4 linked regions of the Homo sapiens genome follow. The gene in region 1 interacts genetically with each later gene. Each region holds a gene or a part of one and is shown in the gene's direction. Other genes may lie near its edges.

Region 1 (3,500 bases):
AGTTACATTCCATTTACAATTTTAGAACTTCTGCTGTAATAGAATTGCGCTTTAAAATATTTGTAAGGATTTTTAAAGCACAAAGTCAAAGTTAAGCTAAGAACTTAATATGGAGCTTAGTTTGTATAAAAGCAGTTCCATGTTATAAAAGTGTATCATAGTTGAACAGGAAGTAGAGAGAATTACTACACATGCTGTGGACTCTAGCATGCAATCCACTCTACTCAGAAGCTAATTTGCATTGCTGGCATTTTCAATAGAGATGGATTATTCCATCTCTCACTATCTGGGGCAACAAATACTAAAAGGACCAGGAAAATGAGGTATGTAAAAACATGGTTTTCATGACCTAATCTACATTTGAGTGCCATAGGGGTGGTGGCTAATTACTCTTTCTTAGAACCAGTATTTATATGTTGTGATAAACACCTTGTAAAAATACAGACATGAAAATGTAGGTTACTAATCTTTTAACCATGCTAAATGTGGCTAAATGGGTGAAGAAAATTTCTTAATAAATATTTTCATAAATAGAAGAGCCGAATTTGAAAAGTGTGCCCTTTAGCTGAAATGAAAATGTCTTTTGTTGAAGTAGTGCTATGGAGCTATGGGCTGAGTTGTTCCTCTTTTTAACAGATGATTTTGCTAGGTTTCATTTGCTATTAATGTAAAATTCTACAACATAGTTTTATAAAAACCATTTGCAGAGAGGTTTGTAATATAATCTAGTAACATCTAGTATCTTTCCTGAATTGCTTTCAAATATCTGTTACTTAAAAAGTTGTTTTACACATTTTGCTTTTGCATAGGAGAGGCAGGGAGTAAGCAACACCACTTGTGACATAAAAATACAAGTAGAATCTTTTATTGCTTCTCCAGGCTGCAGTTAAGAAAGATAAGGAGAGCAGCAAAGCATGCGTTTTGTTCTGTCAACAACATACAAGCAGCTTTTACTGTGTCTTACTACTCATGCAAGGGGTGCTGAATCCATTGGGCCTGCATTTGTAATATGCCTAAAACAATAAAAATTCATTGTGCCTGCTGTTGTAATATTCCTAAAGTAATCAAAAACAAACAAAAATGTATCAGATACATTCTGACTTTTCAGATACAGAATGACCAAGTTGTAATTCTGTCACAGACTCATATATAGTTGACAGAGTGCTAAACAGATTATGATAATCTAGGCCTTTTTATAAAAATGTATCTAAAAATTATATCATTGCATATGATTAATATGTGTGGTCACAACAACTAAGACAGAAGATGCTTTAAAACTGAAAAAAAAAATTCTACGGAAATATCTTTGCTGTTCCTTCAAGAAGTTATAGGTACAAAAGCCACAGTAATTTAGAAGGAAATAAGATACATCATTATGATTAGTGGCTTGCCAAGATAGAACTTGTCATTTTTCAAATAAATGGGCAGGAAAGTCATAGATTGTTATTTTAAAATCTTAGAATAAAAGATGTCACAACTCAGACATTCTATTTAGCTCAATGTAAACTTAGTATTGGATGAAAAAATAAAATTTTGTAAACCAGATTAAAAATTGAGATACAAGTAAAGTTGCTAATTCTTATTTTTCTTTCTTTAAAAAGACAAACAAAGGGCAGGTGTGGTGGCTCATACCTGTAATCCCAGTATGTTGGGAGGCTGAGGTGGGAGGATACTTGAGCCCACGAGTTTGATACCAGCCTGGGCAATATGGCGAGACCCCATCTATAAAAAAAATACAAAAATTAACTGGGTGAGGTAGCATGTGCCTTTAGTCCCAGCTACACAGGAGGCTGAGGAAGGAGGATTGATTGAGTCTGGGAGGTTGCGGCTATAGTAAGGCAACAGAACGAGATCCTGTCTCAAAAAAAAAAGAAAAAGACAAAACAACTTACATCAATTACCATCTCAGTCCTTGCCTTTTTTTCATGGGTCTTCTTATTGCATAACAGCTGAAAAATGATGAAGTCCAAGTGTCCTTCTTATTTTTATAAGTGCTATATATGTGCTTATTATTATGGATGTGGCTGTAAAAAAATTTAAATCCAACCTAAAATGCTTTCCACATTCATAATTTCAATTACCTCTGAAAGTAGTCCTTTGAGATAGGTCAGAATAATTATTTCTCCCATTTTAATGGATGAAAAAAAATGGAGCTTGTTCTTGATGTTTTGATATGTTACTATTTTGTGTCAGTTTTGTGTCATTTTTTTAGTTACATGAGAACTTATCTTGCAAGTTCTCACTCCCAGTACTTTCATCTTACTTTTATAGATCCCTGATCCTATTTTGTTTCTCCCTTAAATTTACAGTTTTTCTTTTTCAAAGCATTCTTCATGTTTGGAAGATACTGTCTCTCCCCCTAATCTTTGAACTTCCTCTTGTCTACAATAGAAACTACGCAAAGCAATAAATACAGAAGATAAGAGAGAGGAAGTGAAAGCCTAAAGAGGTTAGTAGAAGCCAGAAAAGTGACAGAGAGAAGGGAAGAGGGTTAAGAATTTCAGTAGGAAGATGATGTTTCCTCATGTAACAAACCTTGATGATCTCCTGTCTCTTCTACCTCATCCATCTTGTTAACTCAGAAATAATGTGATTCTTCTAGAAACTCACCGTAACTCAGACATCACCTTTTGCCAAAACCAACATTAGGCTCACTCTAGTTTTTATAAGGGGAAATTATACTCTCTTAGAAAAGACATTATAAGGAATATTTCTTTAAAAAGAAGCAAAGAATATCTACTAAGAATCACTAGCTATACGAGGAAAAATTCTACTATGAAATACAGAGACCAAAGCAAACAAACATAAAAAAGCAACTCAGGAGTAAGTTCTCTAAATTGTGATGTGTGCAATCTTTAACATCCCCAGAGAGAGAAGAAAAAATGTTTGTGCCTTTAAAAGCAGAAAAGTCTTATAAAAAGTAACATTTGAAAATAAAGGGTGTTTTTGAAAATTAAAAATATAATAGCAATTTTCATAGATATAATCTAAAGTTGAAGAAATTTCCCAGAATATAATAAATAATATTGAACATAAATAATTGGAAATAGAAAAGATAAGAAAATTAAAGGACAATTACAGGATGTCCAACATCAAAAAGAAGGAGTTCCAGAAATGGTACATTGAAAGCAGAAAACAAAATGATCAGATAAATAGGGCAAGACTATTTCTAAGAAAAGGACACTTTTTATTCCAGATTAAATGGGCAGCACTGTGGAGAAGAGACTCCCTTCAATAAACAACCATGTAATTTTAGGACACCAGAGACAAAGACAATATCCAGAATCAAAATTGCATCATGCTTCTCAATAGTAGCCACAAAACTATAATTTATTAGAGCAAGGCCTCCAAAATTATCCTCAACCTTGAATTCTCTACCCAGCCAAACTATCAGTTAAGTTTAGAGGTAGGACAAAGTCAGTTTTAGATGTACACGTTCTTTAAAAATTCACCTATGCATGCTTTATTAGACAGCTGTTGGAAGATGTGCTGTACTAGAA
Region 2 (3,500 bases), on another chromosome or scaffold:
AAAAAGTCAGAATTGAAAGAAAGTTGAGAAATCCTTTGGTCTGACTTTGTAGATTAGGGAACAACTGCTGGGGTAGGATTATTTTGTGTTACTTTTTGAATTTTGTGTTTATTATTTTGAGTGTATTTTTTGGGTTGTCATTCCATTACAGGAAAGTATTATTTGGGCATGTTAACTTTGACATGTAAACTTAGAATTGTGAATAGAACTCATCTTTTAACATAATTTTATGTTTCTAAACTTTAAAAGTAGCTATAAGTGAACAAATTACTTTCCCCTCAATGTCAAATTTTGCTTCTCTGAGTTTTAAGTGATGAGTCTACATTTACAAATATAAAATTGTGTGCAGGTGAAAATTACAAGTATAATTTGAGTAATAAATGCAGGCCATTTTTTGGTTGTACTCTAGTACTCAGAAAATAGATCGGCATTAGTTATAACAGTGATTGTAGAAAAACGTGTTTTACCCAGACTTCTTAAAAATTAGATGAGAGAGGACACTCAAAGAAATTATACTTTTGTCATTAATTTACTATAGTGGAGAACTAAATCTGGGAAGTCAAAATTGAAAAAAGAATGTGTAATTTAGGGAAAGTAACTTTTTGTCTGATAATATTAATGCAAGGATTTTGTATTTAGGAATACTTCTGAGAGGAGAAGCTTCCACTCTGATCTAGTCTGGCAAAATTGAGGAAAATATTCTACCCTGTAATTAAAGAAGACTGCTCTTTGGAGGGATCACTGTTCTATATCTTTTTTTGTTTGTTTTTGTCTTTGAGGAGAAGTCTCGCTCTTGTCCCCCAGGCTGGAATGCAATGGCGCGATCTTGGCTCACTGAAACCTCCACCTCCTGGGTTCAAGCAGTTCTCCTGCCTCAGCCTCCCGAGTAGCTGAGATTATAGGCGCCCACCACCAAGCCTGGCTAATTTTTTCTATTTTTAGTAGAGCCGGGGTTTCACCGTGTTAGCCAGGCTGGTCTCGAACTCCTGACCTCAGGTAATCCACCTGCCTCGCCTCCCAAAGTGCTGGGATTACAGGCGTGAGCCACTGTGCCCAGCTCTTCTAGTTCATTTTTAAGTGTTGAGTCCCTGCTGTTTAAGAGATGTTTTGGTGAAAATCTACATTCAGAGAGAAACAGGTTAATCTTCCACATTTTTTATAAAATACATAAAATATAGTACTTGGCATTTTAAGAAAAGAATGCCATGTATTAAAAGGTGCTATTTTCAACTATTTATTATTTTAAAACAGGAATGCTTATCAATACTTTCGAATTTAAGATAAATGTCTTCGTTAAATTTTCTAGGCAGTTCAAAGATGGCCATTTGCTGGTGAATTTTCCAAAATAGATAACAGATAAAATGATTATGTAAGAACTTGGCACAACAGATCATTTTGCCTTTAGTCGTTCAAGAAATGATACTAAACTCAAAGTCATTCACTTGAAACAACTGAGAAGACCATTCTTAGGTGTTTAGATCCTTGCTTTTAGAAACATTCTTAGTTATATTTGTGTTTTCAAAAGTTATTGAGTAGATAGATATTTTTTCATGAATTTTTAAACATTAGACTTAGCTGAATTGATTAAAATTAGGTGATTATGAAAAAAATATTGCCCTGCTCGAGGGCATCTGGAGCCCTACAGTTACCATTACTAAAGTCTGTGAGTATGTCTATTTTGAAAAGTGTCATAAAAATATCTAGTCCATAAATCATTATAGGTTCAGTAATACATCATTTTGAACTGATTCTATCTTCTGTGAAATTCTAGAGATATGTTATCTTTAGGTAGCATGAGTAAGATTCAGGTATGCTGTGAATTTTGTTAACGTTTATGTTTTCCATTAATGGATAGTCAGGAATCTTTTGAACTGCGTCTATGTATTTAAATGATTTGGAAAGATAGCATCTCTCAGTTTAAACTTAGCATCTCATTTTGGCAAGATAAATTATTTTAGCTGTCTGGCCTTTTCTTTGTCTTCTTAGAGTTATTTCTGAAATGTGCATAGCCAGTCATAAAATAACTTGTGTAAATAGCCTAATGTAATTTATTTCTAATAAATACGTAGCTTAATGAAATGTATTTCTAGTTTGAACTTAATTGCCACTTGGCTTGATATTATTTTCCTTAGAATTGTTGGAAGAGAGGAGAGAGGAAGGGATCTACCATTTTTATTTATACCACCTAAATAGTGGACTGTTATTTTGGACTCACTTTTAAATAAAATATTTATTCACATGAAGAAATAAATTTTGTGTTTATTAGGTTAGCAAGCGTTTATTATCTTTGAAGTAATTGGAATTTCATTAAAAAGTGAAGCAAGTAAGAATTGTGATATAAATTTGAAAATTTTTAAATGGAAATTGAAATATGACTTAGGAACTGTGGGCTTGTAGAAAAAAACATTTAACATGGGAGTTAAGATTTTTATATTTGGTTGTGGCTCTGGGATCAATAAGGCAAGTGGTTTAGTCTTTAGTCCTCATTTCAAATGAGAATAGTATTTGTCCTAACTCTAGTCAGTGTCTGATTGGTATGTGTATAACCTTATTTTAAAAAGGATTCATTCCTGCCATATACTCATAATATTTATAAGTATGTCATATGATAAATATTGAGTAAATATATACTGAATGAAGTTTTTAGTATAGAGTGAAGTGAATAGAAAAAACATCCTACATAACCGTGGCTAATTTTAGGAAGTAAATCATGTTTCATAATAAGAGTCATCCTAAACATTTTTCTGTGTAATTTTCTGACCCAGTGTTAACAATTTTTATTTGCCTTAGTGCAAGCTTGTTCAACCCACAGGCCACATGCAGCCCAGGATGGCTTTGAATGCGGCCCCAACACAAATTTTGTAAGCTTTCTTAAAACATGATGAGATATTTTGTGATTTTATTTTATTTTATTTTATTTATTATTTTATTTTATTTTATTTTATTTTTTAGCTCATCAGCTATCATTAGTGTTCGTGTATTTTATGTGTGGCCCAAGATGGTTCTTCCAGTGTGGCCCAGGGAAGCCAAAAGATTGGAGACCCCTGCTAGCATTTAATGCTTATACATGTATTTACTTGTAAACATGTTGTTTCTTTGATAGGATATGATTTCAACATAATTACTGTTTATTTAAAATAAGAAAAACAAATAACTTTCAACCATTAAAAGGTTATAACACTTTAAAGGAAAGTTTCTTATTAAAGAAACTTTATACCCTATTAAGGGTATAATTTCAAAATAATTGCTTTTTATTTAAAATAAGAAAATATTCTTATTTCTATTTAAAATAAGAAAAATCAGTAACCTTCAACGAATAACAGGTTAAAGAATTTAAAGGTAAAAGACATTTCAACTAATTACAAATACTTTGTTTTTTTTAGTTGGGCTACATTTTACCACTCTAGGAATAGCTGTTAATTATTTTTTATATAGGGCATTTTTATGTATTTAATGTTGACAACTGACGTTTCCAATATACAAAAACTTGTGTAACTGAG
Region 3 (3,998 bases), on another chromosome or scaffold:
CAAGGCCTAGTCAAGAAAAGGGTCCAGAGGACCTTAAATAAGTTTGATCAAGAAGATAAGAGTCTTTCGGTTGGGCACAGAGGTTCATGCCTGTAATTGCAGCACTTTGGGAGGCCAAGGCAGGCAGATCACTTGAGGTCAGGAGTTCAAGACCAGCCTGGCCAATATGGTGAAATCCGGTCTGTACTAAAAATGCAAAAATTAGCCAGGTGTGGTGGCATGCTCCTGTAATCCCAGCTACTTGGGAGGCTGAGTCAGGAAAATCCCTTGAACACAGAAGGCAGAGGTTGCAGTGAGCTGAGATCACGCCACTGCACTCCAGCCTAGGTGATAAAGCAAGACTCTGTCTCCAAAAAAAAAAAGAAGACGGTCTTTCTCAAACTACATGAGAGCAGTCAGTTTTTCATGGACTGTGGCATATTCAAGATAAAATACAGTCTCTAAGACAGAGTAAATGCTCATTAATATTTATGAGATGATCAAATGAAGATTAAAAAAAGCCAAGGCTTATAGCGGATAAATAGCTTGTACAAGGTCACATGGAGAGTGGTGTAGCTGGCAATTAGTTCAGGTGTGCAAGATTCCCAAAGTTTCAGCTCTCAGAGATAGTATGATGATCTTGTCCCCAGATCATACCAGAATAAGTTTCAGCTATCTCTTTACTTTAGAAGGGAAATAAATGTGAAATTCAGCCTTAGATACTAATACTTCCATTAGTAGTATAAAGTGTCCTCCAATTCTACCTACAACACCTGCAAGAGCTTCTTCCAGAGTTTTCTCATAGTCACTCTATCTGAAACCTAGCCCATTCCAAAATCAGCACTTTTGTAGCCTTTATTAAAGAATTCAAATGACTCATGGTTTAATTAAGGAACAATTAAAACTTATTAAACCATGGCCAAAAGATTGCTGGCTTGTCTATTGCAAGTTATTGTATGAAATGAAAAATGCCACTGATTATGTACGTAATTGTAGTTCAAAGCAAAGCTACCATCTCATTCTTCATCCATCAGCCTGGGTTTGGGGACTAGCTATTAAAATGGCATGTGCAATTACCTGTCTTTCACAAGAAAAGAATCCCCATGGCTCGCAGACATTTCTGACCTCTTTCTGGAGTTGTACTACTTAGAAATTGCTATTTCACAATTGAGGCAGGAATTCTTGAAAATATATAAGGCAGGATCAAAGTGAGCTGGACGGACACCAGGTCACTTCTTTTCCCTACATCTGACTGCCTTGGCCACTTCAGTACTATGAGAGCAACAGCCATAGTCCTACTCTTGGCTCTGACACTTGCAACCATGTTCAGTGAGTATCTCTGATAATACTGCCCCTGCCCTTGTACTAATAGCTCATGCAGTCTTCTGCCTATGTAATTCTGGGATATATGTAATTCATCACATAAATAATAAGGGAAACTTTTTAAAATGAATCTTTTGCCTCAACCAACGAATTGCTAAATCACATCACCTCAGGGGTAGAGTGGATGTTAACAGTCATCTAAAGTCAAATGCTTATTCATGAGAATACTTTGTATAATTTTTTAGGGAGAGGATCATCCAGACTCTGCTTTGACTTGATGTCACCATTTACAGGGAACTCATTTATTCATAAAACATTACAATCAATTGTTTGGCACCATGGGCTATTCTTCTATTATTGAGTTAAAATTGGCCTCCCTAGAATTTTCAACCACTGTTCCAACATCTGTCATCTACACCTGTCCACAATAGCACATCTCCCTAAATATGACTCACTTATTTCTTCTGTCTCTACTGAGCTCTGGTTATGAAGTAAAAAAGATTAAGACAAAATTCTCATTCATCGTGGCATCTTTTCCATTTCTTTGACTAGATTCCACTCCCACTCCAAAAAAGAAAAAAAATTTAAAGATACGTGTGAAGAGCTTCAACCTTTGATACAATGCTGATACACAGTTGTGAAGAGAGACTTACATTTTTATGACAGGCTGAAAGCTAAAGCATAAATCAAAGATTCTTTTTCTAGTAAGATTAGGTTCTTCCAGAGTTTAATATTGCCTTGTCTTTGTTTTTCTTCCAGGTATAGAATGTGCCAAACAGACGAAACAGATGGTCAGTACACCCATCCTACTTTTATGTAATTTTAAAGTCAATATCAGTAAGGAAATATTTGATACTACACAGTAATTAAATTTCTATATGTTTGAATATTTACTTTATGTGTATGAAAACTGGTTTTATTTCAAAAATTGTAGGCAGATCTTTCTAAAATGGAGAGAGTAGAACAAGGTGGTGAGACACTAGCAACAAATTTAGAAAGGCCTGGTCTTTAATTCCACGTTTTTGATCACGTGGCCATGGGCAACATACTTATAACATTATTCCAAGACTTGAAGCCATAGTATTTGAAAAGAGCTTAGCACAGTGCCTGGCATAGAGTGAAACTCAATAAGGGCAAGTCATGATTCTTATAATTTTTAAATGGGTCACACATATCTTTGTTCTCTGTCTTAGAAAATAAGGACTTTAATTTAGCCTTCCATTCATGACTCAGGTTACAGTAATGAGTATTGTTGAAAAAATCTAGGTGTGGTAGCAAAAATCTTATTTGGTACTCAATTTGAGTTCCACTCTAAACTCTGTTGCTTATTAACTGTGTGACACTGGGGCCTGGGAAATTTATTTTATGTCTTTGAGGCTTCTGTTTTACCTATTAAAGAAAATAATAGGGTTAAGGATATAAATTTTGGAGTCAGATGGGCCTGAGTTCAAGCCATCCTTCATGATTTAGTAGCTGTGAGAGGATGTAAAGGATTACTGAAAGTTACGAGCTTGGTAGTTTCCCATCACATTGTTGAGTATCACATAAACTCTGTCTCCCTGGGATTTGAGCAGGCAAGAAGAGGAAGTGAAATCACGCTGGCATATACTTATCATCAGGCACTGCTGTTTCTATTCTGCTGCACTAGCCTCTAAGGTCCTCCTGCCATTATGCCATGCATACCTATCTTTGCATCAGCTCCACTAACCTTAGCCCGATAACAGGAGGTGTATGGAAGCTGATGAATGAATGAATGAATTAATTAATGAAGCACATCTGGAGGGAAGGAAGAATTCAACTTTAAGTTTGAGTATATTCCAAGCTATTCAAGTAGAGATAGTCCACAATTAATAAAATATCATGCCTAGACCTCTCAGACAAAACAAGCTGGAGATGCAGTCTTTTGTATACAGCTGGAGTTTGTGTAGACCTGAAAGAGAAATCAAAAGATAAAAAATTGTGCCTATTATTCATTCAATATTTTCCATGCAATGTAGTGCTAAGCATTGTACACATATCTTTTCATTTACATATTTTTTACTTCCACCCTACAATGTGGTTATTATCTTTATTTTACAGATAAAAAAACTAAAGTTTAGAGAGGTAAAAAAATTTTTACAGGGTCACATAGAATTTGCATTCAGATGTGTTTGACTTTACTCTATATGCTCTTCTATATGCTCATAGATTTTTTAAAAAATATGAAAAACTTTTCTTGGGAATTGCCTACCTACTTCCACAGGCTTTGCTCTAGGAATTTAGAACACTGGTTCCCAACTACAATATTAAGATATATTCATCTATGTGCTGGTGAAGTATATAACAAGTAAATTGTTACCAATAATTAGTAGTAAAAATCTGTCAGTAATGTACTAGTCATTAAAATGATAGTAGTTATCCCTACATTTCACACTTGCATTCATATTGAGCTTTTTCAGTGAAAGACAGAAATAGTAGGATAATTCCTACAGAAAATATATCACACTTCTGAGTACTCCCATGAGAATGGTTGCATTTGAGAATATGCCATGTATTTTAAGAACTGATACATCAACCAGTATTGTGAGAAAAAAATCTATTTTTACATTAAGGTATGATTTGGGAACCAACTATGGTAAAGATGTTTATCAGTCATGATTTTATATCTGACATAAAACATCTTTACATTTGAAATGTCTTGAAGGGGGTAGATGAGA
Region 4 (3,500 bases), on another chromosome or scaffold:
CGATGGTCGCTGTCTCTTTGGAGCTGTTGGGTACACCTCCCAGATGGGGCAGCCAGGCAGAGGCACTCCTCACTTCCCAGACGGGGCGGCCGGGCAGAGGCGCTCCTCACTTCCCAGACGGGGCGGCCGGGCAGAGGCGCTCCTCACCTCCCAGACGGGGCGGCCGGGCAGAGGCGCTCCCCACTTCCCAGATGGGGCGGCCGGGCAGAGGCACTCCCCACTTCCCAGACGGGGCGGCCGGGCAGAGGTGCTCCACACTTCCCAGACGGGGTGGCCGGGCAGAGGCGCTCCACACTTCCCAGACGGGGTGGCCGGGCAGAGGTGCTCCCCACTTCCCAGATGGGGCGGCCGGGCAGAGGCGTTCCCCACTTCCCAGACGACGGGCAGCCGGGCAGAGGCGCTCCTCATTTCCCAGATGGGGCGGCCGGGCAGAGGCGCTTCTCACCTCCCAGACGGGGCGGCCGGGCAGAGGCGCTCCTCACCTCCCAGACGGGGCGGCCGGGCAGAGGCGCTCCTCACCTCCCAGACGGGGCGGCCGGGCAGAGGCGCTCCTCACTTCCCAGACGATGGGCGGCCGGGCAGAGGCACTCCTCACCTCCCAGACAGGGCAGCCGGGCAGAGACGCTCCTCACTTCCCAGACGGGGCGGCCAGGCAGAGACTCTCCTCACCTCCCAGATGGGGCAGCTGGGCAGAGGTGGCTCCTCACATCCCAGACAGGGCAGCTGGGCAGAGGCGCTCCTCACTTCCTAGACGGGGCGGCCGGGCAGAGGCGCTCCTCACCTCCCAGACGAAGGGCGGCCGGGCAGAGGCGCTCCTCACATCCCAGACGATGGGCGGCCGGGCAGAGACGCTCCTCACCTCCCAGACGGGGCGGCCGGGCAGAGGCGCTCCCCACTTCCCAGACGGGGCAGCCGGGCAGAGGCGCTCCCCATTTCCCAGACGGGGCGGCTGGGCAGAGATGCTCCTCACTTCCCAGACGGGGCAGCTGCCAGGCAGAGGCGCTCCTCACCTCTCAGACGGGGCGGCCTGGCAGAGGCACTCCTCAGTTCCCAGACGGGGCGGCCAGGCAGAGGCGCTCCTCACCTCCTTCTTTGTCCCTTTTTATAGTTTTTTTTTCTTGAAATCTATTTTGTCTATTACAGGTATAGCTACTCCTGCTCTTTTTTGGTTTTCATTGGCATGAAATATCTTTTTCCATCCCTTTATTTTTAGTCTGTGTGTCTTTATAGGTGAAGTATGTTTCTTGTAGGTAACAGATCATTGAATTTTGTGTTTCTTAGCTATTCAGCCACTCTATGTCTTTTGATTGGAGAATTCAGTTTGTTTACATTTAGTGTTATTAATAATAAGTAAGATCTTACTCCTGCCATTTTGTTATTTGTTTTCTGGTTATTTTGTGGTCTTCTCTTCCTTCTTTCCTTCCTTTCTATTTTCCTTTTAGTGAAGGTGATTTTCTCTGGTGGTTTGTTTTAATTTCTTGCTTTTTATTTTTTGTGTATTCATTGTATGTTTTTTGATTTGAGATTATCATGAGGCTTGCAAATAACTTATAGCTCGTTATTTTAAACTGATGACAATTTGGCACCGATTGCATAAACAAACATGCAATCAAAAAGAAGTCTAATAAATACTCTGTACTTTGTCCCCCCAACTTTTTAACTTTCTGTTATTTCTATTTATATCTTATGGTACCAAGTATGTCTTGAAAAGTTGTAGTTATTTTTGATCGGTTCATCTTTTAGTCTTTTACTTAAGATATCAATAGGTTACATACCACAATTACAGTGTTATAAAATTATGTGGTTTTTTGTATGCTTAGTATGACCAGTGAGGTACCTTCAGATCATTTTTTAATTGCCCATTAACACCTTTTTTCCTTCAAATTGAAGGATTCCCCTTAGCATTTCTTGTAGAACAGGTCTGATGTTGATGAAATCTCTCAGCTTTTGTTTGTCTGGGAAAGTCTTTATTTCTTCTTTAAGCTTGAAGGATGTTTTCACTGGATATACTATTCTAGGGTAAAAGTTTTTTTTCCCTCAGTAGTTTATGTCATACCACTCTCTTTTGGCCTGTAATGTTTCCACTGAAAAGTCTGCTGTCAGACATATTGGAGCTCCATGGTATGTTATTTATTTTTTCTTTTGCTGCTTTTAGGATCCTTTCTTTATCCTTGACCTTTGGAAGTTTGGTTATTAAATGCCTTGAATGGTAGTCTTCTTTGGGTTAAATCTGGTTGATGTATAACTTTCTTGTACTTGAATATTGATATCTTTGTCTAGAATTCGGATGTTCTCTGTTTCATCCCTTTGAATAAACGTTCTGTTCCTATCTCTCTCTGCCTCCTTCTTAAGGCCAATAACTGTTAGATTTGCCCTTTTGAAACTATTATTTAGATCTTATAGGCATGCTTCATTGTTTTTCATTCTTTTTTCTTTTGTCTCTGTTGACAGTGTATTTTCAAATAGCCTGTCTTTAAGCTTACCAATTCTTTCTTCTGCTTGATGACTTCTATTAAGAGACTCAGTATGTCAGCTGCATTTTTCAACCCCAGAATTTCTGCTTGATTCCTTTTAATTGTTTCAACCTCTTTGTTAACTTTATCTGATAGGATTCTGAATTCCTTCTTTGTGTTATCTTGAACTTCTTTGCATTTCCTCAAAATAGCTCTTTTGAATTCCCTCTCTGAAAGGTCACATATCTATGTTTCTTCAGGATTTGGTCCCTGGTGCCTTATTTAGTTTGTTTTTCAAGGCCATGTTTTCCTGGATGGTCTTGATGCTTGTGGGTGTTCATTGGTGTCTGGGCATTGAAGGTATTTATCGTAGTCTTCACAATCTGAACTCTTTTGTACCTGTCTTAGAAAGGCTTTCCAGATATTTGAAGGGAGTTGGCTGTTGTGATCCAGTTTTGGTCATTGCAGCCATATCTACATTAGGGGGCACCCCAAGCCCGATAATGCTGTGGTTCTTACAGACTTGCAGAGGTACTACCTTTGTGGTCTTAGATAAGGTCTAGAAGAATTCTCTGGATTACCAAGCAGAGACTCTTGTTCTCTTCCCTTACTTTGTCCCAAACAAACGAGTCTCTGATTCTGTGCTCCAAGCCTCTTGTAGTTGGGGGAGTGGTGACACAAGCACTTTTGTGGCTACCACCACTGGAACTACACTAGACCAGACCTGAAACCAGCATAGCACTGGATCTCACCCAAGGCCCAGTGTAACCCCTACCTGGCTACCTCCTGTGTTGGCTCAAAGTTCTAGGGCTCTATAATGAGCAGGTGGCAAAGCCAGTCAGGCTTTTATCCATCCCTTCAGGACAGCAAGCAAGTTCCCCTGGGCCCCAGGCAGGTCCAGAGATGCCATCTGGGAGCCAGCATCTGGAGTTGGAAACCTTAGAACCCTATCTGGTCCTCTATTCTCCTGCAGCTGAGCTGGCATCCAAACCATAAGGCAAAGTGCTTCCCACTTTTCACTCCTCTTTTCATAGGCAAAAGAGTCTC

Evidence for each region. Genes that interact genetically often act in the same process or in processes that back each other up.
Region 2: changes in TRPC6 (region 1) and ALG10B together harm fitness less than expected from each alone (positive genetic interaction), as found in Homo sapiens cells (one large-scale study listed by BioGRID).
Region 3: changes in TRPC6 (region 1) and SPINK9 together harm fitness less than expected from each alone (positive genetic interaction), as found in Homo sapiens cells (one large-scale study listed by BioGRID).
Region 4: changes in TRPC6 (region 1) and FUT8 together harm fitness less than expected from each alone (positive genetic interaction), as found in Homo sapiens cells (one large-scale study listed by BioGRID).

What each region holds. Positions count from the first base shown.
Region 1 is NC_000011.10:101,507,508-101,511,007, reverse strand, and holds part of TRPC6 (short transient receptor potential channel 6), read left to right. Parts: intron 1-125; exon of another isoform or gene 126-318; coding exon of another isoform or gene 319-323; intron 324-3,500. UniProt on the Homo sapiens protein: Forms a receptor-activated non-selective calcium permeant cation channel. Probably is operated by a phosphatidylinositol second messenger system activated by receptor tyrosine kinases or G-protein coupled receptors.
Region 2 is NC_000012.12:38,323,274-38,326,773, forward strand, and holds part of ALG10B (dol-P-Glc:Glc(2)Man(9)GlcNAc(2)-PP-Dol alpha-1,2-glucosyltransferase), read left to right. Parts: 3' UTR 1-639; coding exon of another isoform or gene 640-651; 3' UTR 652-3,500. UniProt on the Homo sapiens protein: Dol-P-Glc:Glc(2)Man(9)GlcNAc(2)-PP-Dol alpha-1,2-glucosyltransferase that operates in the biosynthetic pathway of dolichol-linked oligosaccharides, the glycan precursors employed in protein asparagine (N)-glycosylation.
Region 3 is NC_000005.10:148,334,361-148,338,358, forward strand, and holds the start of SPINK9 (serine protease inhibitor Kazal-type 9 precursor), read left to right. Parts: upstream 1-1,198; 5' UTR 1,199-1,253; coding exon 1,254-1,308; intron 1,309-2,061; coding exon 2,062-2,093; intron 2,094-3,998. UniProt on the Homo sapiens protein: Serine protease inhibitor which specifically inhibits KLK5. May contribute to the regulation of the desquamation process in skin by inhibiting KLK5.
Region 4 is NC_000014.9:65,716,730-65,720,229, forward strand, and holds part of FUT8 (alpha-(1,6)-fucosyltransferase), read left to right. Parts: intron 1-3,500. UniProt on the Homo sapiens protein: Catalyzes the addition of fucose in alpha 1-6 linkage to the first GlcNAc residue, next to the peptide chains in N-glycans.